Linked DNA regions of Homo sapiens: region 1 is linked to region 2. The links come from fine-mapping of genetic effects on gene expression. A gene starts in region 2. The other region holds a variant in brackets. All regions are shown on one strand. Distances are from middle to middle. Region 1 has its middle 69 kb from the start of FN1. Region 2 holds the start of FN1 (fibronectin 1).

Region 1 (16,328 bases), 70 kb before region 2:
AAATATCTTTTTGTGCCAGAAAGTAAGGATGGAAACATGTCAAAAGAACACAGAAACCAGCTTGAAGGGGCTTTTACTGACCAAATCTGGAATGATTTATATAAATATAAATAATGATAGTATTGGGTTATAATCTACCTAATAAAATGGGAAACCATGAATCCATACTCATATAAATGCAGAAATTAATAAATGGAGAGTTTGATATGGATCAAGATGTTTATATAGTTTCAAAGTACCTCCTAACAAAATACATACTAGCTTCAAAGGAAAAAGCAGTCATTTATAGTATGTAAGCCTGGCAGACCCTACCTTAAATAAAGGATTAAAGTGAACAGCATCAGATATAAAATAAATAAAAATCATGCGCCACCTGATGCAATGCAATAAGAACACAGCATCTCTTCCATGATACTACTGCCAAAGATGTGCAAAATGAAAACCTAATCATGAGAAAACTCCAGACAAACCTTTGAGGGACATTTTACAAAATAATTGATCTGTCATCATCAAACGTGTCTAGATCGTGCAGTCAAGGAAAGACCAAGAAACTGTTCTGATTTGACATGGTCTATGGAGACATGACAATTAAATGCAACACGTGATTCTGACTTGAATTTTCTATACAGAAAATTATTGGGACAACTCGCAGAACGTCAGTGGGATCTGAGATTCAAAGCATAGTCATCAAGCAATATTAGTTTCCTAATTTTGATGGTTACCCTGCAGTTATAGAAGAGAATGCTTTTGTTGGTAAGAAATACACTGTAATGGCTGGGTGCAGTGGCTCGTGCATGTAATCCCAGCACTTTGGGAGGTCAAGTCCGGCAGATCACTTGAGGTCAGGAGTTCAAGACCAGCCTGGCCAACACGGTGAAACCCCATCTCTACTAAAAGTACAAAAACTAGCTGGGCGTGCCTGTGCTGGGTGGCAGATGCCTGTAATCCCAGCTACTTGGTAGGCCAAGGCAGGAGAATCACTTGAACTGGAGGTTGCAGTGAGCCAAGATCGGGCCACTGTACTCCAGCCTGGGTGACACAGCAAGACTCTGTTTCAAAAAAGAAGAAGAAGTACACTATAAAGTTTAGGATGGGACAGAAAATCCTGCCACCAACTTATTCCAAAATGGTGTTAAAAAAAAAAAAGAGTTCTTTGTAGTGTACTTACAATTTTTCTGTAAATTCAAGATTGATTTAAAGTCAGAAAATTTTTAAAAATTTATCTCTCATGAATTTTCATACAAAAGAAAATTTAATTTTATGAAAACTAGAACACTGATAAAATTTCAAAAATAATTTTTTAGGATGCCTTTTGACATATCCTGAATTGACTCACTTCTTTTTCACCCCTTCTGTTACTGCTTCACTCTCAGCCAGATCCTCTCACCAGTGTGTTTTGTGGACTCCTGCTGTTGAACTTGGACCTATTACCTTCACCTGTGTCCGCCTGGGACCCAGTTTCCACACAGCAACCAGAGTGATCTCTGAAAAATACAAGCCAGATCTCACAATTCTCTGCTAGTAAAACCCCTCCAGTCTCCTATAACCTAGAATAAAATCAGAACTCCTTACTGCGGCCTGAGGGTCCCTCTCTGGATGTCAGAATGGTCTCCCTGCTCTCACCTCCCAGTACTATGCCTCTCATTCACAGCCGGTGCCTCGGGCCTGGCTCACTCTGCCAGCCAACTGACTCTCTTCTCTGTACCGAGGTCTCAGTTCAAGCCCCACCTCTAAAAGGCCAGCTCTGATTTTCCAATCCAAAGTAGCTCTTTCTGCCCGTTTTCAGTCTTTGTCTTACTTAAGTTTTCTCCACAGAATTTATGAACCACTGAAATTACTATCTTTATTTGTTCATTTCCCTAAGGAGTGAGAGACTTCACTTTCCAGCTCACTGTTATATTTCAATGCCTAAAACTGAACCAGGTTCTTATGGTGAATGAATGAATGAATGAATGAATGAATGAAAAAAATGTAGGTCAAGAATACAGGTTCTGTGGGAAGGACCAAACAAATACTTTTCAGTTCAGAAAATAAAATTTAAAAACAAAACAAAGAAAATGAATAGCTGAAATTCATAATAAGTCAGAAAAGGTAATTCAAATAACTTTATAATGCAGTACTCTGACAATATATTCTCAGTAAGATATAGTCTAAAAATAAAACAAATGTAAAGAAATCTTGACCTGAGTAGGTTTTTATTGGTAATGATATTGGTGTTGTTTAACAAACTATTTTGTGTATAATAAAGCAATTAATATATAGATTTACATTATAGGAAAAGGAAGTTACAAATATGAAATGAGAGGAGGTGAAAAAAGCCCTGTGACATCATATAAACTTATAATTTAATGTGATAGAAATAATAACACTCATGAATTTATATTTCTGTTTCTATTCGTATGTATTTTAGGCCCTTTCAAAAGGCCTAAAAGCAATAACAGCCCTAACTGTACACTCCAAAATGGTTAAGGCAGTAAATTCTATGTTGTGTTTTTTTACCATAATAAATAAGTAGGAAAACAAAATAAATCAAAACAATGAAAATCCTTTTTCAGTGAATACACTAGTGCCCAGACCTTTAGTTTCTAAATATCATTCCTGATTAAAAGGCACCGAAGCTTTTTGAGAAATGAATGATTCCAGGTCAAAGGCAGGAAAAGTACAAAAAAATTATTGAGAAAAAAAAAAGTAAAGAAATGCTCAAACACTAAAGAATATGTTTTAAATGAATACAGAGGCTGGCTTGGAAGTTTTCACTGGGTAAATTTGGTGCAATTTGAACATCAAAGAAAGAGGAAAAAGGTACCTTCATAATAGAGAGATCCTGTGGTCAGCCAGACAAGTTGAGATTGTCTTTTAATAGGAAATCATGAGAATTGCCCATCATTTTTGTAGCATTCTTGATAAAAAAAAAAAAGTTTAACTGAATCTGATCATAAGGAAACAACCAGGCAAATCTAGCTTGTATGATATTCTAAGAACACTGACCTCATTTCTTCAAAAATATCAATGTCACAAATAACAGAAAAAAAAGGTAGGAGGACTTTTCTAGATTACAGGAACTAAAGCAATATGCCAAATGCAATGTCTGTCCCTTGATAGAAGAATATAAGTGTTCTTAAAGATACAGTTTGTCTAAAATGTACTTTCAAATTGTTTTAGACACACACACATACACATAGGGATACACATATACCTAAATAGAAAGATAACATGACAAAATATTAACATTCAGTGAATTTAGGCAAAGGATGAGCAGGAGCTCATTGTACTATTCTTTTCTTTTTTTATTATTATACTGAAGTTCTGGGATACATGTGCAGAACGTGCAGGTTTGTTACATAGGTATACATGTGCCATGGAGGTTTGCTGCACCTATCAACCCATTATCTACATTAGGTATTTCTCCTAATGCTATCCCTCCCCTTGCCTTCCACCCCACTTGACAGGCCCCAGTGTGTGATGTTCCCCTCCCTGTGCCCATATGTTCTAATTGTTCAACTCCCACTTATGAGTGAGAACATCTGGTGTTTGATTTTCTGTTCCTGTGTTAGTTTGCTGAGAATGATGGTTTCCAGCTTCATCCATGTTCCTGCAAAGAATATGAACTCATTCTTTTTTATGGCTGCATAGTATTCCATGGTGTATATGTGCCAAATTTTCTTTACCCAGTCTATCATTGATGGGCACTTGGGTTGATTCTGAGTCTTTGCTATTGTGAATAGTACTGCAATAAACATGCATGTGCATGTATCTTTATTGCTTCACTCTTACATACATTGTACTATTCTTTCAAAAAAAATTTTTTTTTTTTTTTGAGATGGAGTCTTGCTCTGCCACCCAGGTTGGAGTACAGTGGCACGATCTCAGCTCACTGCAACCTCCACCTCCCAGGTTCAAGCAATTCTCCTGCCTCAGCCTCCCAAGGAGCCGGGATTACAGGTGCCTACCACCAGGCACAGCTAATTCTACGGGTTTAAAATAACAGATTCTCCTCAACTTATGATGGGGTTACATCCTGATAAATCCATCGGAAGTTGAAAAAATCCTAAGTCAAAAATCCATTTAATACACCTAACCTACCAAAACACCATAGCTTAGCCTAGTCTACCTTAAACATACTCAGAACAACTATGTTATTAGCCTACAGTTGGGCAAAATCATCTAACACAAAGCCTATTTCATAATAAGGTGTTGAATATCTTATGTAATTTATTGAATGCTATACTGAAAGTGAAAAACAGAATGGTTATACGAGTACTTGATGTACAGTTTCTACCAAATGCTTTCGTACCATTGTAAAGTCAAAAAATCATTAAGTTGAACCATCATAGGTCGTGAACCACCTGTGGCTGGAGTAGAGACAGGTAACATCAACAAAAGACTGCAGACTCTGGAGTCAGACTGCCTGGGTTCAATTTCAGGCTCTAAATTCCAGCTATGCGATCAACATTTCTTGATCTGCTTGCTTATCTGGGAAAGGAAGGTAATAACAAACCTGTCTCACAGAATTTTTCCTAAGGATTAAATGCAAAAATTCATGTTAAACACACAGCACAGTTGTTTGGCATGTACAGTAAATACTCAATAAATGTTATGCTGATTATTATTATTACACTAGAACCTGTGTTAGCTCTTCACAGAATAAGACTTCTAGCTGATAATTAGATGGTACACATTTGTAAAAAACATATATTTTAAAATTTCTGTTTCTTCTTTTTTATATCAGTTTAAGATAATTTGCACCTGCATGAAAAAAGCAAATTACAAATCTTTATTTCAGAAACCCTAGTTTTGTTCTTTTTTGTAAATTGACTCTACTTTTCCAACCAGGAAAATGACAGAACTGTTAGCGCATTTAACCACATATGACTGACCCATAATAGTTGTACAAGAAATGTGAAAGAATGAAAGAATAAAATAATGAGTAAATGAATAAACTGGTCCTGGAAGTCAGGCTACCAGACTACACTCCCGAAATCTGCAGGAGTTATGAGCCTCTGCTTTGCTTTCTAGATATCTGTGTCAGCTGCCTCTCCCATGTGATGGCCAGATTTGGGGCTAATGTAGACTCTTTTGTATCCTCCATATTCCAGCCCTATACCCTAATTTCAGAGTTGCTTGTCTACTTTTTCTGTGGGCTCTGAATGGTTGTTTTAATCTATATTCAGGCAGAGTAACAGGCATGAGGAATGTATGACGTAAAAGGTGCCAAAATCAACCACTATGCAAAAAAAACTTCTCTTCCAGCAGCCTGGGTGGGGGCTTCTAGCTGGAGAATATTCAGTTGTGTGAGGGCATCTTAGTAGACCACCAGTGGTATCTGGAAGAAGGAGCCCCCAAAAGCCTCTATCACTCATTAGCAGGTTTACACAATTCATTGAACAGATTGAATAGTTTAACAGATTACTCCATTAATTAGATTTTGGGAGAACAGGGCAGTTATGTGTTGGCAGAGCAAACAGAGAAAATCAAATTCTGGAGTGTGGAACGTTTACCCAAAAGAAATGCAGCTCTGGCAGCCAGATCAAAAGGTAGGGCTCTGAGCAACAAGAAGACCACGCAGCTGAGTGGGAGGAACTGATGGAAAGAGAGATGTGGGTGCAAAACACAAGCCTCTCACCCTCTTTATCCTAGAGCTGGTCATGCGTATTTCAGGAGAGCACACAGATCAAAGGCCTCTCACCTCCTCTTGTTCTTATTTCACATGCCATATCAAAATGTTTTTTCAAACACTCTGATGGGGAAGTTAATTTAAAAAAAAAAAAGAGTTAAAAGTATGCAATGAAGATTTTCCTTCTTTCCTTCTCAAAGTCTCCACAGTCTTTTGAGTAATGCATGCAATTGCCTAAACCAAAATCTTTTGCCATTCACCAGATGGATGCAAGAAACTGACTTATGAAAAGGCTGACAGATGACCACTGAGTATAAAGCACCCTGACACCAAAGTGATCAAAGTCAAGAAAATAGAAAGACATTTTCACTGAAAGGGAGAAAAATCTGCACCAAAAACACATGTGGCTGAATCACATCCAATGGACAGCCTCTGCAGATTTTATTCTTTGACTTTAAAAATATTCAGTGTTTGTAATTTTTTAAAGTTTGCTTTATCATAGAATTCTTTAATATTCAATCTAGAAATCAGCCAAACTAGAGTGCTTAGTAATTTACTACAAGGAAAGACCAAAGACTTTTTGAGAGTAACAAAAAAAGAAAAAGAGGAACTTCCTACAACTGGATATTCTTAAAGACAGCTCACTTCCTGCAAACTCAATGAAAGGGCACTATACCAATATACTAATGCAATTGCAGGTATGATTTATATTTAACTTCATAACTTTTGCAAATCTAAGGAACTGGAAATATAGGCAATATAAAAGAGTAGAGAAGCTAAACATTAGGCTGCAATACATTTTTTGTTTTATACTTGATGTTAGTGAAGTAGACAGTCAATAATACACAAGAATTCAAAACCAATCAAAATGTGAGCAGGAAGGGTGCATACCTGGAAAACACCTGTTTAGGATCAGACAGAAATAAATACAAATTCTTTTTTTTTTTTTTTTTTTTTTGCCACAACTGGCTACACAGCAAGTTACTGTGTATCTCTGAGCCTTAGCTTCCACAACTATAAATGGGAATTGTACAACTTCATTCTCAAATTCAAGAGATAACATATATTAATCAGCAGGTTGAGTCTATGAGTGAGTAACACATGTTCACTATTATTCCAAAAAGAGTCACCCTGGCCCATTCCTTTGACCCTGTGCTTGAATCAACATACCTGTTCCATAATAAGGTGAGCAGCATCTGGCCTTGGAGTTTCACAGACCCACAGCCTTACCACACTCTCTCTCTTTCATCTCACTTTCTATCATATTCACAACCTATTTTAGTATATCAGTGACACATAAGAACTAAGGATATAATAATCATGAAGGGTTTTAAGTTTAAAATACTAACAAATTTTATTTTCAGAAACAGAGTTTAAAGAAGAGGCAAACAATTCATTGCTGCTTTCTTTTTCCTACCTGCATTCTGTCGGACTTGAGCTACATTAAAAATCCAGCTGTAGGCATCAGAAATCAAAAACATTTTTACACAAAGGCACCCCCTTCAGGCTCCTAGTTCCTGCTACTGCCATTTCTTTTGGGTAAACATTCCACACTCCAGAATTTGATTTTCTCTCTTTGCTCTGCCAACACTCTGCACTGTTTTCTCAAAATCTAGTTAACAGAGTAATCTGTAACTATTAAATCTGTTCGATGAATTGTGTAAACCTGCTGATGAGGGATAGAGGCTTTTGGGGGCACCTTCTTCCAGATACCACTGGTGCTCTACTAAGATGCCTTAACACAACTGAATATTCTCCAGCTAGAGGCCCTACCAGGCTGCTCGAAGAGAAGTTTTTTTTTTTGCCTAGTGAGCGTTTCTGGCTTTTTTTTTTTTTTTTTTTTTTTGAAGCGGAGTCTCACTCTGTCGCCCAGGCTGGAGTGCAGTGGCGTGATCTCGGCTCACTGCAACCTCCGCCTCCCGGGTTCACGCCATTCTCCTGCCTCAGCCTCCCGAGTAGCTGGGACTACAGGCGCCCGCCACCACGCCCGGCTAATTTTTTGTATCTTTAGTAGAGGCGGGGTTTCACCGTGTTAGCCAGGATGGTCTCGATCTCCTGACTTCGTGATCCTCCCGCCTCAGCCTCCCAAAGTGTACCTTTTACATTATAAATTCATCACGCCTGTTACTCTGCCTGAATATAGATTAAAAGAACCATTCAGAGCCCACAGAAAAAGTAAAAGTAAAAAGAAGCAAGGTTTGCTGACTCAGGGAGAGTCTGAAAGGCACTTTGGACTTGGCCCTATCTCCCTTCCCACCTCTTTGTCCTTATCTACTCCCCACCTCCTCCTGAAAGCTGCCAGATTGTGACTGTATTTTTGACCCTAGTTCTTCTGAAATTCTTGTGCAATGAGTTTATTACTTTCTTCTGCTCTTGCAGTTTCCTCTCATATTCTTTCAAAACGTTTTCTTATGAA[A/G]TTGTCTTATTCACCCGATTGTAGCCAGCCTACCCTTCTAGAACAGAGGACTCCCATTCTTTCCTGTTCTGTATTTTATCTAAAGCCAATTCCAATTCAGAACCACCTCTATTTCTAAATTTTGATTATACATTAATACGTCTTGTAACATTCCCCATTTGGCTCCTCCAACCCATTTTTTTCTTCCATTAATTGATACAGATCTGAATTCAGAAGTGGTCTTCTAGTGGACTTTCCATAAGTACAAAATATTTATTCCAGCCACAGAGGTTTGCATAACTTTACATCTTGCCTTTGGTATTTATGTCCTCTGTTGGTGAGAAAGTCTGAAAATTTCCCAATGTTCTTGTGAGTTAAGGACACCTCAAGAGCTATTTCAATAAGGTGATTTTCCTACTCCACGTTTGTTTAACATCATGCATGCAATCTAGTATCCTATTTAAGAAGATATTGTCTGTGGATGAGATAGAAGGCAGGGAACAAATTGACTTACTAAATCTTTAGGCAGTAAATAAAGACTTCTTCTCTGAGCTCTTTACCACAAACACAAATAACCCTAAACCCTCATATCCATGTTAATAAATCCAAAACTCCCCTTCTGTCCAACACAGACGATGCCTGTCTTTTCCTAGCCCTTGGAAACAACTATTTAATTACCTGTGTAATTCTCACCAAGTTATTACCCTTTGCCTTATCAGAAAATGTTTTCTGCTCTGTCATTTGGTTTAGTCAGTGTGTTTTTCTTGGAAAGTTTCTGTTTCTGTGTCTCCTGTACCCCCAGAAGACTCACTCTTGGAGTCAGCACATGACATTTTTTTCCAAGTGCAGAGGAAGGGCTCTGTGGCCCCTGCAGAAGAACCACAGCTGTGGCTCTGTGACTTACAGGTGGCGAAGAACTTGAAGGGAGAACAGCCAGGTCCCACTGGCTATTCTGGGATGTTTGAATGACTCAATAACCATTATTCATTAAAAAGTAGGTTCCTGCTGCACTTCTGTCCAGAGAAATCCACAAGGTGCCCATGTGAGAGGTAATTTGGATACAAATCATACCTGCTTTGCAAAGCACCTACCCTTATGGCTTTCAATTTAAGGACCTATTGGAAACCAATGTTCCATTTTGTTCCATCTATGGGCATATTACTGAATATGACAGGCCTCTCCTAAATGACGTTTATTCATACCCCTTGTTCAACCCTACTTTCAGCTCCTGTATGATGACTGCCTACTTCTTTGAGGCTTCCCAGGATCTCCTAAAGTGATTCTTATCATATGCCACATAACCCAAATTCTAAATCAGATCTTCCTAAACAATACTTTCCAAATTTTGTGGAAGTCTATCTAAGAATTTTCATGATACCCACAAATAGGAAACTAATTTTATTTAAAAGCAAAAGTTTGTGGGTCTAAAGGTGTTTTTCTAGTGGCATGGCCTCCTCCATAGGAAAGGGAAGGGAACAGACCTTTAATCCACCAGATACAGCACTACCTGCTTTCTATAATTATCCCTGCATTTTCTCACAGAAACTTTATGGATTATATTGTTAGTCCCATTTTGCAAATAAGAAATGAAGGCTCAGAGAAATTAACTAGATCGAGTGTCTGGGCTCAGATTTCACCTGGTTCTAATGCTGATGCTGCCTCCATGAGATATGCTCCTTTCAAGGAAGGTGTTTCCCCATCCTTTGGAACAACTCCGTCTAGAACAGAAAAAGAGAAAGGTAAATGAATTCATCCTAAATTGGGAGGGAGGGCAAAGCTGTCATCCTCCCAAGCTCAAGAGAAATAATGTAGTAATAAATAGTTTTTAGTGCAAATAAAAATAGATTGTAAAGTACAAACAAGTTAATGATTCTGTTTAAATAATAGAATAGAATGTGAGCACCAAACACACAAACATTTATCACAGTCACTTTTTTATGAGAGCTATACAAAGAATTTTTTAAATGATCATTATGCACATCTGCTCCACATCTGTAGCCTCTCTGTCTGCAACTTTATGGCTAGTGGCAACAGTGAAATTACACCATCCCTCTTCACTGTAAGGCAAATCTAAGAGGCCTCCCCACTGACCATAATATTAGGGAACACAATGAAGGGAAAATAAGTGTCTGGGCATGGCATGGGGGCCTAGGGCAGTCTGTGGAAGACAAAGTTGTGAAGCCGGAGAGAAAGTACCTATCATTTCAGTTGGCTGAGGCATCCTAGGTAACAGAGCTACAGACATACTCTAGGATAAATAAATGTATAGATTGTGATGTTAAGATTCCTGGTCAGAAGGCCCTTCCACCTGCGTAAACTATTCTACTGTAATTGATCTGTTCCGTGGTCATTTTTGTTTTGTTTTGTTTTGCTTTGTTTTTTTGAGACAGTCTCACTCTGTCCCCTAGGCTGGAGTGCAGTGGTGCCATCTCAGCTCATTGCAACCTCCGCCTCCTGGGTTCAAGCAATTCTCCTGCCTCAGCCTCCCGAGTAGCTGGGATTACAGGTGTGCACCACCACACCTGGCTAATTTTTGTATTTTTAGTAGAGACAGCGGTTCACCATGTTGGCCTGTCTGGTTTCAAACTCCTGACCTCAGGTGATCCACATGCCTCCCAAAGTGCTGGGATTACAGGTGTGAGCCACTGCACCTGGCCTATTTTTGTTATTATTGCTGTTTTTTTACTTTACTCTCCCAAATATGAGATGATAATTACTACTGTGTGTGTTCAGATTGAACAGTGAGTTAAAGAATAATCAGGCCACATAATTAGATGTGGACTCAACCCAAAGAATATGGTAAAATACTTCTTTGCTATTTCTCTATGACTGTTAAATCTATATTATACATTTCACATGAAAGACATAAATGTATATTTGCAAATCAATATAAAATATGCCCTACGTGGTAGGCAAAATAATGGCCCCAAAAGATGTCGGTATCCTAATGCTCAGAACCTATGACTATGTTAGGTTACTTGGCAAAAGTAAATGGTAGTTACAGATGGAATTAATGTTGCTCATTAGCTGACCTAAAGATGAGATTTTCCAGTTGGGCCCAATGTAATCAGAAGGGTCTTTATAAGAGAAAAAGAAAGGCAGAAAAGGAAGAGTTAAAGTAATGCTATGTGAGAAGGACTTAACTGACAATTGCTGGTTTTGAAGATGGAGGAGACCATGAAATTCAGGCAGCCTTTACAAGCCAGAAAAGGCAAGAAAAGAGATTCTCCCTAGAGCCTCCAGAAGGTAACACATTGCTGTTGACACCTTGATTTTAGCCCACTGAGACACATTTCAGACTTCTGACCTCCAAAACTATAAGATAATAAGTTGGTGGTGGTGTAAGCAACTAGGTTTGTGGTCATTTGTTACAGCAGTCACAGGAAATTAATATACTCAGTATTCTGTAGCAAAATGTTAGTATAAAATTATGAATAAATTGACTAATAAAAATGCTTACATTTTAGACACTGACAAAAATATCACTAATTCCCAAAGGAAGTTTAAGTGCATTTAAGCTCCAGTAAAGTTATTGTTTGTTTGTTTGTATGTTTGTTTTAAGGGAGAGAGGTAGGGGTAAGTAAAGTGGGAATGCAGAGTGTTAATAAATGTTGAATGATGGGTGATAAGAGTTCATTACACCATCCTATCTGCTTTTCTGAATGTTTGAAAATGTCCACAATAAAGTTTTAAAACATTTTTCATTCCCCCCAATTAAATAACTTTCAAAAGTGAGCATCTAAGCAAAACCACTATATTAAATAAACACTGTATGTCTTTTTGTTTGTTTTTTTTTTTTGTGAGATGGAGTCTCGCTCTGTCACGAGGCTGGAGTGCAGTGGTGCAATCTCGGCTCACTGCAAGCTCCGCCTCCCAGGTTCACGCCATTCTCCTGCTTCAGCCTCCCAAGTAGCTAGGACCACAGGTGCAGGCCACCACGCCCAGCTAATTATTGTATTTTTAGTACAGACGGGGTTTCACCATGTTGGCCAGGATAGTCTCGATTTCCTGACCTTGTGATCCACCTGCCTTGGCCTCCCAAAGTGTTGGGATTACAGGTGTGAGCCTGTGTGGTATGTCTTTTTTCTAAAATAAAATGTGAAAGACAAAAATCTAAACCTTTCTTTTTATGACTTAATCTGAAAGCCTGTGGTATTAATATATTTCCACCAGAAATTATTAAACCATGTTTTCATAGCAGATGATTTGCTGCCAAAATTTTAAAAGCAAAGCTGTTTGTGCCTACTCATAGAGAATTATGTGTATATTTGTAGTTCTACTCAGCACAAAGAAATGCTTCTAGTGATAAGAGTGGAACTGAAAACAGAATACAATGCATTTGTATGATTAAAAACCAAAACATAAATATAGCCCTGCATCATGGAAAACACATAATGCTATTTTTGATAAGTGCAATATTTAATCTCATTTTTGCTAACATTAGGTGAAAATTGATTTTCCCCCTAAAATGTGATGTGTTCTATTAGAGCTTAAAATGCAGATGAATCATGAGACTATGTTTCTATGATCCTAGCACTACAAAAAGTAGAAATTTGCCAAAGAATTCAATGAGTTTTATTTCTTCATTGAGGTAACCAAATAACCAACATCACCAGTGACTATAGAGTAGATAGACATTCAAATTGTTTTATTATTGAATTGATCAGCTTATTTTACAACCTGGGAACATGAGGAATATTTAAAGTATATTGGTTCACACAAGGAGTTTTGCATAGCAGCATATCTACTTGGGGATCACTAGAAGAATAAACTTAGTTGGAAGAAAGAAAGAAGGAAAGAAAGGAAGGAAGGAAGGAAGGAAAAGGGAGAGAAAGAAAAAGAAAGACAGAGAAAAAAGGAAGGAAGAGGAAGGAAGAGAGACAGAAAGAGAAAGAAAGCAAGAAAGAGAAAAAGAAAGAAAAGAAAGAGCTCTGGGGTTTTTCTCTTTTTTTAAAAAATAAAATTCTAACTGAGGTTCTTAGGTGGCCATATAACTTAGCATACATATATCTATTGTATATTGTATTATTATACATAGTATCTATTGTATATTTTACACACACACACACACACACACACACACTTGATTTTACCTTTCCTTATGTCAATTAGCAGCAGTGTTTTTTTAAGAAATCAGAGTATCACACTAAAATGTTTACTCCTAAAGTCACTATGGAAACCACATCTCCTGTCTTGGTTTCACTTATTTAACGGAAAGTAAATTATAGATTCTATGAATCTTGGGCCATTATCTACACTTATTTCTTTAAAATACATTTTTGTTCTTATAGACTTATAAATCATGATGCATTAAGAACTATGACATAAGTATTATCTTCCAATCCTCAGAAAATATGAGACCAAAAAACTATCCAATATTTAAGTAATTCCAGAAAAGTTTTTACAAAGCCAATGGTTACCAGTTTATCTTTTTAACACTACCACCACCACAAGCAACAAGTTTTCCTTATATGTGATATATGCAGTGTGAGCACTTGACCTCTGATGTTCTTTGATAGAGAAGGAAAACACTTGGCAATCATCATGTATATTATGTAACTTCAAAAATGGGAAGACTGTTACCAGGTTACTTCTCTTCTCCAAGAAAAGCAATTCCAATTTCTTTAACTCTTTCTTATAAGTTCCATTTTCCAACCCTCTCATCAACATTCACAGTCTCTTCTGAATCTTTCCCAAATGTTAGAGTTCTCTTAAGATGTGGAGCTCCAAGCTGGAAAGTACATTCTTGTAAAAATTTGACCAGTGCTGAGTAAGAGCAAGTACCATCTATTTATCCATCTGTCTATTTAAAGTTAAGTGATCATGGAGGGTCTCCCAGCATAGACCATAGATGTTAGGTGTATTTTGGTGCAGCATGAACATCAAAAAGGGGAAAGCATGTCTGTTTTTGCCTTAAGCTCTTGGTTTCAGCAAGACCACACCTAAAAGAGTCCTTAAGACATATCTACAGCCAAATAACAGACAATGTCTTTTCTAAATCAAAGATAAATAAACACTCTGCCGACTCTGAATCATTATCTTTGAGACCTCTTGTTTTCACACAGTTAAATGTTACCAAATTCCACCGGCATGTGTGGGTGTCATCTTTTGGCAGTCTTAAAATATGGAACATTTCTTTATGAAAACATACCAGTTTTATGTTTTGTTTCATGAAAGAAGCCAAGTTGTCTAACTACACCTAGTGAAATATTTCATATTCTTAGGTAGAAACCCTATTCCATTTCTTCTTAAAATTTCCTACCCATTGCTCAGATTCTCACCCCCTTTGAATTGTCTTTTCATTCACTTTATTCTTTCCTTTGTATCTCTTTATTTTCTCTATTATGTTTCTTTCCCTCTCATACATTCTATGTAATTCAGACATACATAAACTATAAATAGAATAGAAAAGAACTTAGTAAAAATGTAGAAGTGAGCTTGGGCAAGAGGAGATTTAATTAAGGATTGAAGCATCACCCCTGTTCACATCTGAGAACATCAAATAGGAACAGTGGTATTAGGTGCATGTAACTTCCAACTTGTGAAGCAATCGAGAAGAAAGGAAATAAAGTTATTGAATGATCAAAAACATGTCATATCACCTCAGACTCAAACTTTCAACAGTTCAAAATTTGAAGAGCTTTTTTTTCCAAGATGAGTTGTGAGTTGTATTTCATCAAAAATAAAGTTTGGAATAAAGCAATCCATTTTTTTAAAGCCTGAGAGAAAAAAAATCTAGACTCTCTACTTCAAAAAGAAGCTATATTTATCAGTGTGGCTAAATCACGAATGAAGCCCAAGAGTTAGAGGAATGGAGCGAGTCAGCCTCACATCGACAAGCAGCAGAAGGCAGGCACATTCACAGCCAACCTGCTTGGCAAATTGGCGTTTGAAAATGCGATGTTTCCAATGTAGGAAGTCTGCAGGCGGAGTGTATGTGGTGTTATCAGACAAAAATCTCTGTGTACCTGGACTTGGCGTCCACATCTTCTCAAACCCCAGGCTTCACACTGAGTTACGTCAACATGTGACTCAGAAGAAGCAGAAAGGGAAAAACAGGGCACAAAGAAGGCAACATAGGGGAGAAAAGAGCAAATAAAAACACAGGCCAAAGTAAGCCAGCCTAGTTGTGAAGAGAACTGTGAATACTTTTTTATTTTTTTTAACCAAAGGTAAAAAGGAAAGCTGAGTTTACATTTTCTAATGACTGGAGCTGTCGTCTCAAGAGAATACAGAGAAAATAAGAAAATGCATAATTTTTTTTTGGACAGAATCTCACTTTGTCACCCAGACTGGAGTGCAATGGCATGATTTCAGCTCACTGCAGCCTCTTACTCCCAGGCTCCAGCGATTCTCATGCCTCAGCCTCCTACATAGCTAGGACTACAGGTGTGAGCCACCACACCTGGCTAATTTTTGTATTTTTAGTAGAGACAGGGTTTCATCATGTTGGCCAGGCTGGTCTTGAACTCCTGACCTCAAATGACCCACCTGATTCTAAAGGAGGATTAATATTGCCCTTTAACCTAAAACATTGCTAAAAGAAAAAAAAAAAAAAGTGCCAGTTATTCCTATCCCAGTCTCTCAGCTCCAACAGGGACTCGTGTTAGTCTTCCTGAACAGTTTATAAATCTATCTCTCACATTGTTATTAGAAAATGATGCTATGAGCAGATCAGAGACTTTTTTGGAGTAAATGATTGGATATTGGTCTCCCACATAACTTGAATCTCACTGAGAAGCAGTATTGGGGAAATTCAGCCAGATATCGGGCAAAATTCACCCCCGATATTTCACGTACGTTCTTTGCTATTTTCCCTAAGCATCAGCCGGTTTGAGAAATAAAGGGACAGAGTACAAAAGAGAGAAATTTTAAAGCTGGGCGTCCAGGGGAGATATGACATGTCGGTAGGTTCCGTGATGCCCCACAAGATGCAAAACCAGCAAGTTTTTATTAGTGATTTCAAAAGGGTAGGGAGTGTACGAATAGGGTGTGGGTCACAGAGATCACGTGCTTCACAAGGTAATAGAATATCACAAGGCAAATGGAGGCAGGGCGAGATCACAGGACCACAGGACCGGGACGAAATTAAAATTGCTAATGAAGTTTCGGGCACACATTGTCATTGATAACATCTTATCAGGAGACAGGGTTTGAGAGCAGACAACCGTTCTGACCAAAATTTATTAGGCGGGAATTTCCTCGTCCTAATAAGCCTGGGAGCACTATGGGAAACTGGGGCTTATTTCATCCCTACAGCTCGACCATAAAAGACGGCTGCACCCATGGGGGCCATTTTAGAGACCCACCCTCAGGGAT
Region 2 (8,490 bases):
GGTTATTATTATCATTATTATTAAGAGTGTCTCACTATATTGCCCAGGCTGGACTTGAACTCCTGGGCTTAAGTGACCCTTCCACACTGGCCTCCCAAAGTGCTGGGATTACAGGAATGAATCACCACACCTAGCCTGTTTTTATTTCAGTCCTTCTAAATGACTGGATCTGATCAATTATTTTTTGTGCTTAATCAAATGTCTCCATTGCTAATCTTCAAAACAAATGAAATCAATTTAATTCAGATTTCCATAATTGCTCATGCTCCTCCTTAACCTTCTGGAATAATAAAATTTCCCAATACCATTGCCCCCCGCCACCCACACCCCCCTAGTTCCCGAAAATATATGTGCTTCTTTTTGTTACAAAAAGTTTAAATTGCCTGAGGCTCTGGGAAAATTCTATCACTATGGCAATTCCAAGAAGAAACAAGGCACAGTCCTAAATGAAGATTTGTTCTGTCTCTACCACATATATGCCTTCACACAAATAGTAGGTTTCAGAAGGAGTTACTGGTGTAGAAGAAATCCACTACTATATTCAAGGCAAACTTCCTCTCAGAAAAATGAAGAAATGAGGACGCCTTGTGTATGTTGCTGCTACCTGAGAGCAAGTCTTTGAAACCAAAATCAGGAGATGGTTAAGAGTAAAAAAGAACAAATACTAATTTTTAAAATCAACTTTTGAAAAAAACAACTTTATTGAAGCATAATTTACATACCGTAAAATTCACTCATTTTGTGTATAATCCCCAGAATTTTGAAGCTTTTACCAAATTGTACAGTCATCACTGCAATGTAGTTTTAGAACACAGATTTCCATCACCTCAATAAGATTCCCTGTGCCCTTTTACAGTTAATTCCTGTTCCCAGCCCATAAACTTGGGTACCCATGAATCTACTTTCTGTCTCTATTGATTTCCCTTTTTTTGTCACATTTCTCTCTCTGAATACAGTTTTAGAAAGAAAGAAGGAAAGAAGGAAAAAGAAAGAAAGAAAGAAAGAAAGAAAGAAAGAAAGAAAGAAAGAAAAAGAAAGAAAGAAAGAAATCCAAGAGTATTTCCTACCAATAGGAGAATACAATTTACTGAGGAAGAACCCACCTGGATAAAATAGAATTCTTAAGGAAGTCCAACGATCCTGGACACCACACACGTTGGTTGAATTAGAGTCAGAGTGGTCTTTAAGATTTAATTATCTCTCCAATTAGAGATAACAGACTTAGAGTTACAAGGGACCTTGATAATTAAAGAATACTGTAGTAAGCCCTGTTATCTTAACTAAGAAACGCCTCTGTTTCTAAAGTTTAAAAAAAAAGGCAAAAAAAAAAAAAACCTTTCAAGTAAAAGAGTAAACTCCCAAGCATTCCTATAAAAATCAGTCAGATGTTATTTTTTTTCTTATGAGACAGAGATATCCTGTTTCCTTAAATAAATTAGATATCTATGGGATTGAAATATAAAAGTTTCTTCCAAAATGTAAGGTGGGCTTTCCACTTCAAGCTCCACTATGCATATGATTCTAGTGTATTTTCAGTGCAGTAAATATATCAAACTATCATGGTTTTGGTTGACCAAATACTTTTCTAATCACTTATTTCCTTCCCCCAGAATCAATGAATTTTAAGAAAGCTTTAGCTACAGGTTTATCTTGCTTACATCCGGATTTCCAGGTATCCTTCCCTCTGGAAGAAACACTCGGCTTCCCAGAAATTTACCAAGCATTTTACAAGGAGCTCTTTTATATTTGAAAAGAGAAAACTGTTTTGTCAAGTGATGAGAAATTCCAAAAAAATCCTCTAACCCAGACAGGATTCTAAATTTGGGGAAATCCATGGCACTCTTTCAATTTGGAGTGTGGGTCACAAAGATTCCTCAAGAGGTTTTTTTACACTATTTGTAGGAAACTGATATTTGCTGGGTGTTTTGCTTTGTTTTGGTTTGGTTTTAAATCCTTGCATGAATAAAAACAAATGCTAATTTTGTGTCTTTAATGTGTCAGGCATTTTATAGAACACAGAGTTCTAATTACTCCTGTGGCAATTACTGAAGGTGAAACTTTTGGAGAAAATAGGTACCTTGCCGAAATAAATATATTTTATTAGTAGCTTCTTGTGTTTTAAAGCAAATGGAACCTCTGAACTCCTAACACAAGGAGAAGGCAAAGCATTCAGTTCGGGTCTCTCTGGATCTACTGTGGAAGTGGTGGACTCCTCCTTCTGAAGATCTTTAAAAGCAATTGTGCCTGTGTTTATCTGACAAAAAGGACTGATGTGATGTGTTGCTAAATGAGAGACTTTTCAGATTCCCTTTCCACTCTGAGTTTAGAGTTCAAGGCGGGGGAATCTTAAAGGAGAACTTTCCACACTCTTGGAGTAAATAACAATTGAAATATAAAAAATCTGGCGGCGGGGGATGGAGGGGGCATTCTGTAATGGAACTTGTCAGCAAAAAGAAAATGGCAAATAAATGTGAGAAAGGGGCCGAAGGAGGGCAAGACAGTACATAGGGTGCCCCCCACCCACCCGGCTTTTAATGATTCAAGCAAAAAAATCTCTGCTTTGTGTGTAACTGGCACGGTGAACGTGGGAAAGGACACGAAGACCTTTCTCTCCCCACAGCTGGTCCAACTTTCCAATTTTCAGGTTGTTCACAGTGATTTCACTTTCAGTGGAAACGGGCGTCCCATCCCCAGGAAAGGAAGGCTTTCCTGCATGTGTAAAAAAGTAAACTGTTACTTTGTCCTTGCAAAAGAAAACTTCATTCTCTGAACTTCCCCGGGATCTGCAAAGCGCCCCGCGGAACTCCCGGTACTTAGTAGAAGCTCATTAAAGGTCTCTGTTCCCCTTTGCTCCCCGTTCGCCCGCTGGCCCTTTCTCAGAGCCAGACAGGCACAGCGCTGAGAAGGGAAGAAGTCCGAACAGGGAGCTGTGAAGACAAAATAAGGGAGTCCCGAGTCAGTACCCTTTAGTCCAAAGAAAGGGAGCGGGATGGGGGGAAAGGCAGCCCCGCCCTGGGACTGAAAAGTCTGGATTCTTAACAGCTGCAAGGTCGTGGATATTTTATGGGTTTTCTTCCTCACAAAATACACTCCTATAAGCAGAGATTCCCCCCCTCCACCCCGAAGAGAGGTGACGCAATGTCCTCAAACACTACCACCACCCCCAATAAAAAAGAAAAGGGAAGGGGGAGCGTCTTGCAACCCCTTCGCTTCACACAAGTCCAGCCACTCCCTTTCCTCCCAGCCGCTTCCCATCCCTTCCCCCATCCCCTAAAAAGTTTGATGACCGCAAAGGAAACCGAAAAAAAGTTGTCTTGCCCCAGTCCTGGCGGGCCATCAGCATCTCTTTTGTTCGCTGCGAACCCACAGTCCCCCGTGACGTCACCCGGAGCCCGGGCCAATCGGCGCGCGGTCGGCTGCGGCGGCCGGCGGGCGGGCGGGCGGGTGGGGTGGGGCGGGGCGGGGACAGCCCGGCGGGTCTCTCCTCCCCCGCGCCCCGGGCCTCCAGAGGGGCGGGAGGGGACCGTCCCATATAAGCCCCGGCTCCCGGCGCTCGGACGCCCGCGCCGGCTGTGCTGCACAGGGGGAGGAGAGGGAACCCCAGGCGCGAGCGGGAAGAGGGGACCTGCAGCCACAACTTCTCTGGTCCTCTGCATCCCTTCTGTCCCTCCACCCGTCCCCTTCCCCACCCTCTGGCCCCCACCTTCTTGGAGGCGACAACCCCCGGGAGGCATTAGAAGGGATTTTTCCCGCAGGTTGCGAAGGGAAGCAAACTTGGTGGCAACTTGCCTCCCGGTGCGGGCGTCTCTCCCCCACCGTCTCAACATGCTTAGGGGTCCGGGGCCCGGGCTGCTGCTGCTGGCCGTCCAGTGCCTGGGGACAGCGGTGCCCTCCACGGGAGCCTCGAAGAGCAAGAGGCAGGCTCAGCAAATGGTTCAGCCCCAGTCCCCGGTGGCTGTCAGTCAAAGCAAGCGTGAGTACTGACCGCGGGCTGAAACAGGCTGCCTCAGGGATGGGACCCTAAAGCCGACCAAAGTTGGGGCTGAAGTTTTGTGCGCGCGCGTGTGTGCGAGTGTGTGCGCGCTTTACTGAGAGAAACCAGCTGTGCACACAAAAGGACCGAGTTTTGAGCACGCTGGTTCTGAGGGCCTGGGATGATAAGACCGTGCATTGGAGGACGAGGACTCTGCGACTTTCCCGTGTTCTAATAAATTCTGCACGTTCAGATTGTCCTTCTAGGAATTAACCAAAACTTGCCTTTAAAGAGAAAAATGATGCATGTCTATAAATTTTCCGTCTGGGATTAGTGTGGTCCTTACTGCTACTTATTTCCTTCTGTTAAATAATTGGTCAAATATTTTCAACATGGGGGTGGAAAGGGGGTATTGAAATAGCTGTCTTGTTTCTAACTAACTTGGAAGAGATGTAATTGGTTCAGACCTCTTTAGGGCCGCTCAGGATACTTCACCAAGAACAGAGGTTGGAATTCTTTCCGTTTTTCAAAGACACACCCTCCTTTTGCTTTGAGAAAGCTGCTTAAAGTTGTCCTTTTTGACTATTACTCCAAAAGAATATTTAAGTTCCTTGCATGTTTTAAAAATGTGACTTCAATTGTCTGCCTTCCAAAATGTTTCCAACTTTTTTATGTAGACCCCTGGCCAGATGGAAATGACATCATTGTATATAACTTTTAGCAAAGTTAAAAGGAAAAAAATATGTACGTCAATATTCACATGAAGAAAATTCCATAATTTTGGGAAAAGGAGAAATGCAAATGTAACGTTTTCCTTCAATTATTTGCAGCCGGTTGTTATGACAATGGAAAACACTATCAGATAAATCAACAGTGGGAGCGGACCTACCTAGGCAATGCGTTGGTTTGTACTTGTTATGGAGGAAGCCGAGGTTTTAACTGCGAGAGTAAACCTGAAGGTAAGTGACAACAAGCCCCATAGTTAGTATCTTTTAATACATGAAGTGGTAATTGTTAAACTTTGCATTAGTAAGTAAAAATACATACACCATTTTTCTAATAGAATTACCTGTCATTTCCTCTTAAGTTTAAAAACTGCTTATATTTGCTTTTCACATGCTTTTACCTTTAAAACAAAGAAACGAATCTTTCCCAAATTAGTTCCTAGAGTCTTCTTTTTGCTTTACTCTCCCAAAGTTTTTGATGAGAAAAATGAAAGATTTTGTGTGTCCTCCGACAAAAAAAATTGCTTATAAAATTTTAATTTATTAGAAAGCAGTCTCAAATCTTAAACTGTTAGTTTATGAGCCAGAAAACACTTTGGGGACTTACATCGTAAAATGATTTGTCAGCGGCAGTTAACACAAAACCATTAGCCACTTCAAAGTTCTCATTCCTTTAGGACCAATGATATTTTTCTCATAAATTATAGCAACTCTGTCAGAGAAGCACTGATCAGGGGAAAATGGAAATCATAGGATTAACAACTGTCAAGGCCTTGTGGGAGGTGGGGATCTTCGAATTGTTTGTTTGTTTTTGTTTTGTTTTGTTTTTGAGACAGAGTCTTGCTCTGTCACCAGGCTGGAGTGCAGTAGCACTATCTCAGCTCACTGCAACCTCTGCCTCCAGGGTTCAAGCAATTCTCCTGCCTCAGCCTCCTGAGTAGCTGGGACTACAGGCACATGCCACCACACCCAGCTAATTTTCATATTTTTAGTAGAGACGGGGTTTCACCGTATTGGTCAGGGTGGTCTCGAATTCCTGACCTCAGGTGATCCACCCGCCTCAGCCTCCCAAAGTGCTGGGATTACAGGCGTGAGCCACTGTGCCCGGCCAATCGTTTGCTTTTTATGTGAACCTTGCTTTGACTTTCTGAGTCAGAGATTGGAATGTGAAACCCTTCACAAATCTAGCTCTGTCATAAGTTAGTACTTTATATGGCCTTTTCCTAAGAGCCTGAGATTTTTCTACAATATGAATAATTTACAGAAAATTTGACAATATGTCAAGGTCAAAAACCATGGCCTTATTAGAGCTTAGGATAAAAATCTGTATCTCTCACTTCATTTTATTCTTTGAGGTGTACCATGTTACTTGTGGAATAGAGAAGTGGGTTTTCCTTTAGAGGGGATTAGTGAACTAGAAAAGCTTGTACCTAAGTGAGGCTCACATGGACTTTCCTTTTCCCCTCAGCTGAAGAGACTTGCTTTGACAAGTACACTGGGAACACTTACCGAGTGGGTGACACTTATGAGCGTCCTAAAGACTCCATGATCTGGGACTGTACCTGCATCGGGGCTGGGCGAGGGAGAATAAGCTGTACCATCGCAAGTAAGGAAGAGATTGTGTAAAATGATGCCAAAATATCAAATATGAATTTCTCTGTTACCATCACTGTCATTTTCTGTTATCCATGACTGGATATTCCGAACTTTGAGGTTTGCCCCTGGTGACCAGGTACTCTTAAGTGGTCACCCAACTGGTTCCTGTGTTTCTTAAAGACGGGTATGAGCACAGATGGAATCAGTGTTTGATGTGTGTGCGTTTATGAGTGTGTGTGCATTTATGAGTGTGTGTGTTTCTGTACATAGTAGAACCAAGAGACCTCTTGGGTTCCATTTCAGTAAGACATGCTTAGGGGAGTTGCCCATTTTAAATCACCTGGATATCTTCAAGCTAGACAAATCATGAGACTTTTCTGCAGTGACTGGGAAGGTGTTCATGAAGAGTGAACCAGCCATGTGTTGTCTGGTCTTCATGTTTGCAATGCAGAGACCTCTTGCACCTCACAGAAACAGTCTGGTTTCTTGGTGACCAGTAGGTTATACCCAGGAAGCAGATGTCACTATTCCTAGGGATAATACAAAATTATTAACCCAATAGAGTTTGCTAAGGAACTTTGGGAACCGGGCTGATTCTCAACTCTAGTTTAGCTAAGGCACTCTTTCCAGTATGATTCACTGGGTTACCAATAGATTCTATTAAGATAGTATTTAAGTTTTTTAATCCATTCTTTAAATATAAGTCGTCTTAAAGACTTCTATTCAAAAGAACAAGTCCCGTGTGAATAGGCCCAATCAACTTTCCCCATATTTCATGTTAGGGTTTATCCAAGTTCACAGGCAAATCGCAAGAGGCAAGGGTCCATAGTGTTTACAATCTAGTTCAGCATTTGAATGTGCCATTGGGCTTAACAACTTAGAAAACTACCAGGATTTCCACACTTTATATGCATATGTCTGTTTGCTTTCCACCAAAATGACATTTCTATCCTAGGGTAAAATACAGGCTCTCCATGCTCCCAAAAGCTGGAGTGCTGTGCCTGATGTGGCCTTTTCACTGAATTAGTCTCAGTCTTAGCCTGCTGTGTATGAGTGAAGACCAAGCCTCCCAGCCTTTCTTTTCTGCTTAGGACCCAATTTCCTGTGATCTCTCTGGGAAAGCAGGATTCATGACCTCTTCCTTGCCATCCAGATTTCTCTGTGGTTTTCCATTGTGTTCTAAGCAAGACACTTAACTGAATTGACTCCAAGTGACCAGACCTGTTAACGTTTCCCCTGTCTCTGATGGGAAAGCTGTTGTCTGTGTCTCTACTTTAGCCAACCTAAGTACCTACCATGGGTGGAATATGAGACCAAAAAAAAAAATCTGTTCTGCCCTCTCCTAACATTTTCGTTGTATCTTCAACAGACCGCTGCCATGAAGGGGGTCAGTCCTACAAGATTGGTGACACCTGGAGGAGACCACATGAGACTGGTGGTTACATGTTAGAGTGTGTGTGTCTTGGTAATGGAAAAGGAGAATGGACCTGCAAGCCCATAGGTGTGTGAGTCTTAGGGCTGAGCAAGAGCTGGGATGCTTAGTTCTAATGTGGGGTTGGACCAGAATCACATCTACATAGGTCATAGACCTGAATTCCAGTGAAAACCAATAAAGAAATGGGAATTTTGTTTGAAATAATGAATTATTATATAATCCATAGTCTTCTTACAGGAGTTAGATCAAAAAGTACTGACTACACATAGAAGTCTTAACTTTGCTTCAAAAGCATAAGGTAGAATTGAAAGATTTAGAATGGAGTCATTTCTTTTACCTAATAGCTGATCTCAGATTCCTCCTTCGTCAAGATATAATTTATTTAAAAGAAAAAAAAATGACACTTTGGACACATTTCTATATGGAATGTCCTGGACCGAAACATGAAATAGTGTGTGCTTGTCACACTCTGCTCATTTCTTTTCAAATTAAAAGTTGTTGAGCTTCTTTGGATCTCAATCCTCAGTTGAATTTTGTAAGTACAAGCCTGAAAGTTTCTGGCTATAAATTTTACTCTGTTTACTTGTCTTCTAATTTAGAGGTTTTTGTCTTGTTTTGTATTGTTTTGCTTTCCAATATTTAAAAATAGCTTTCTTTGTCATTGTATTTAGGCCACTCAAAATTCATAATTGGTCATTTATAATTAAGATTGGAATTTTGCATATGTAGTCTCCCACAGACTAGATACATACATAGATCCT

The links. PIP is the estimated chance that this variant, and not a neighbour inherited with it, causes the effect.
Region 1: its variant is the best candidate, but not a certain one, in a credible set for the expression of FN1 in blood mononuclear cells (TOPMed, PIP 0.62).

Annotation. Positions count from the first base shown.
Region 1 is chr2:215,497,258-215,513,585 of GRCh38, reverse strand. No RefSeq gene overlaps it. Among named protein-coding and RNA genes, the nearest start is that of FN1, 69 kb to the right of the region's middle. The variant A/G (reference allele first, on the strand shown) is at 8,031.
Region 2 is chr2:215,431,138-215,439,627 of GRCh38, reverse strand. FN1 (fibronectin 1) reads left to right here and starts at 3,560. Exons shown (of 46, transcript NM_212482.4): 1 at 3,560-3,973; 2 at 4,804-4,932; 3 at 6,167-6,304; 4 at 7,664-7,795. The coding sequence starts at 3,826. FN1-DT (FN1 divergent transcript) reads right to left here and starts at 3,937. Exons shown (of 2, transcript NR_187198.1): 1 at 3,319-3,937; 2 at 683-2,709. RefSeq lists silencers at 3,377-3,466, 3,477-3,536 and an enhancer at 5,049-6,248.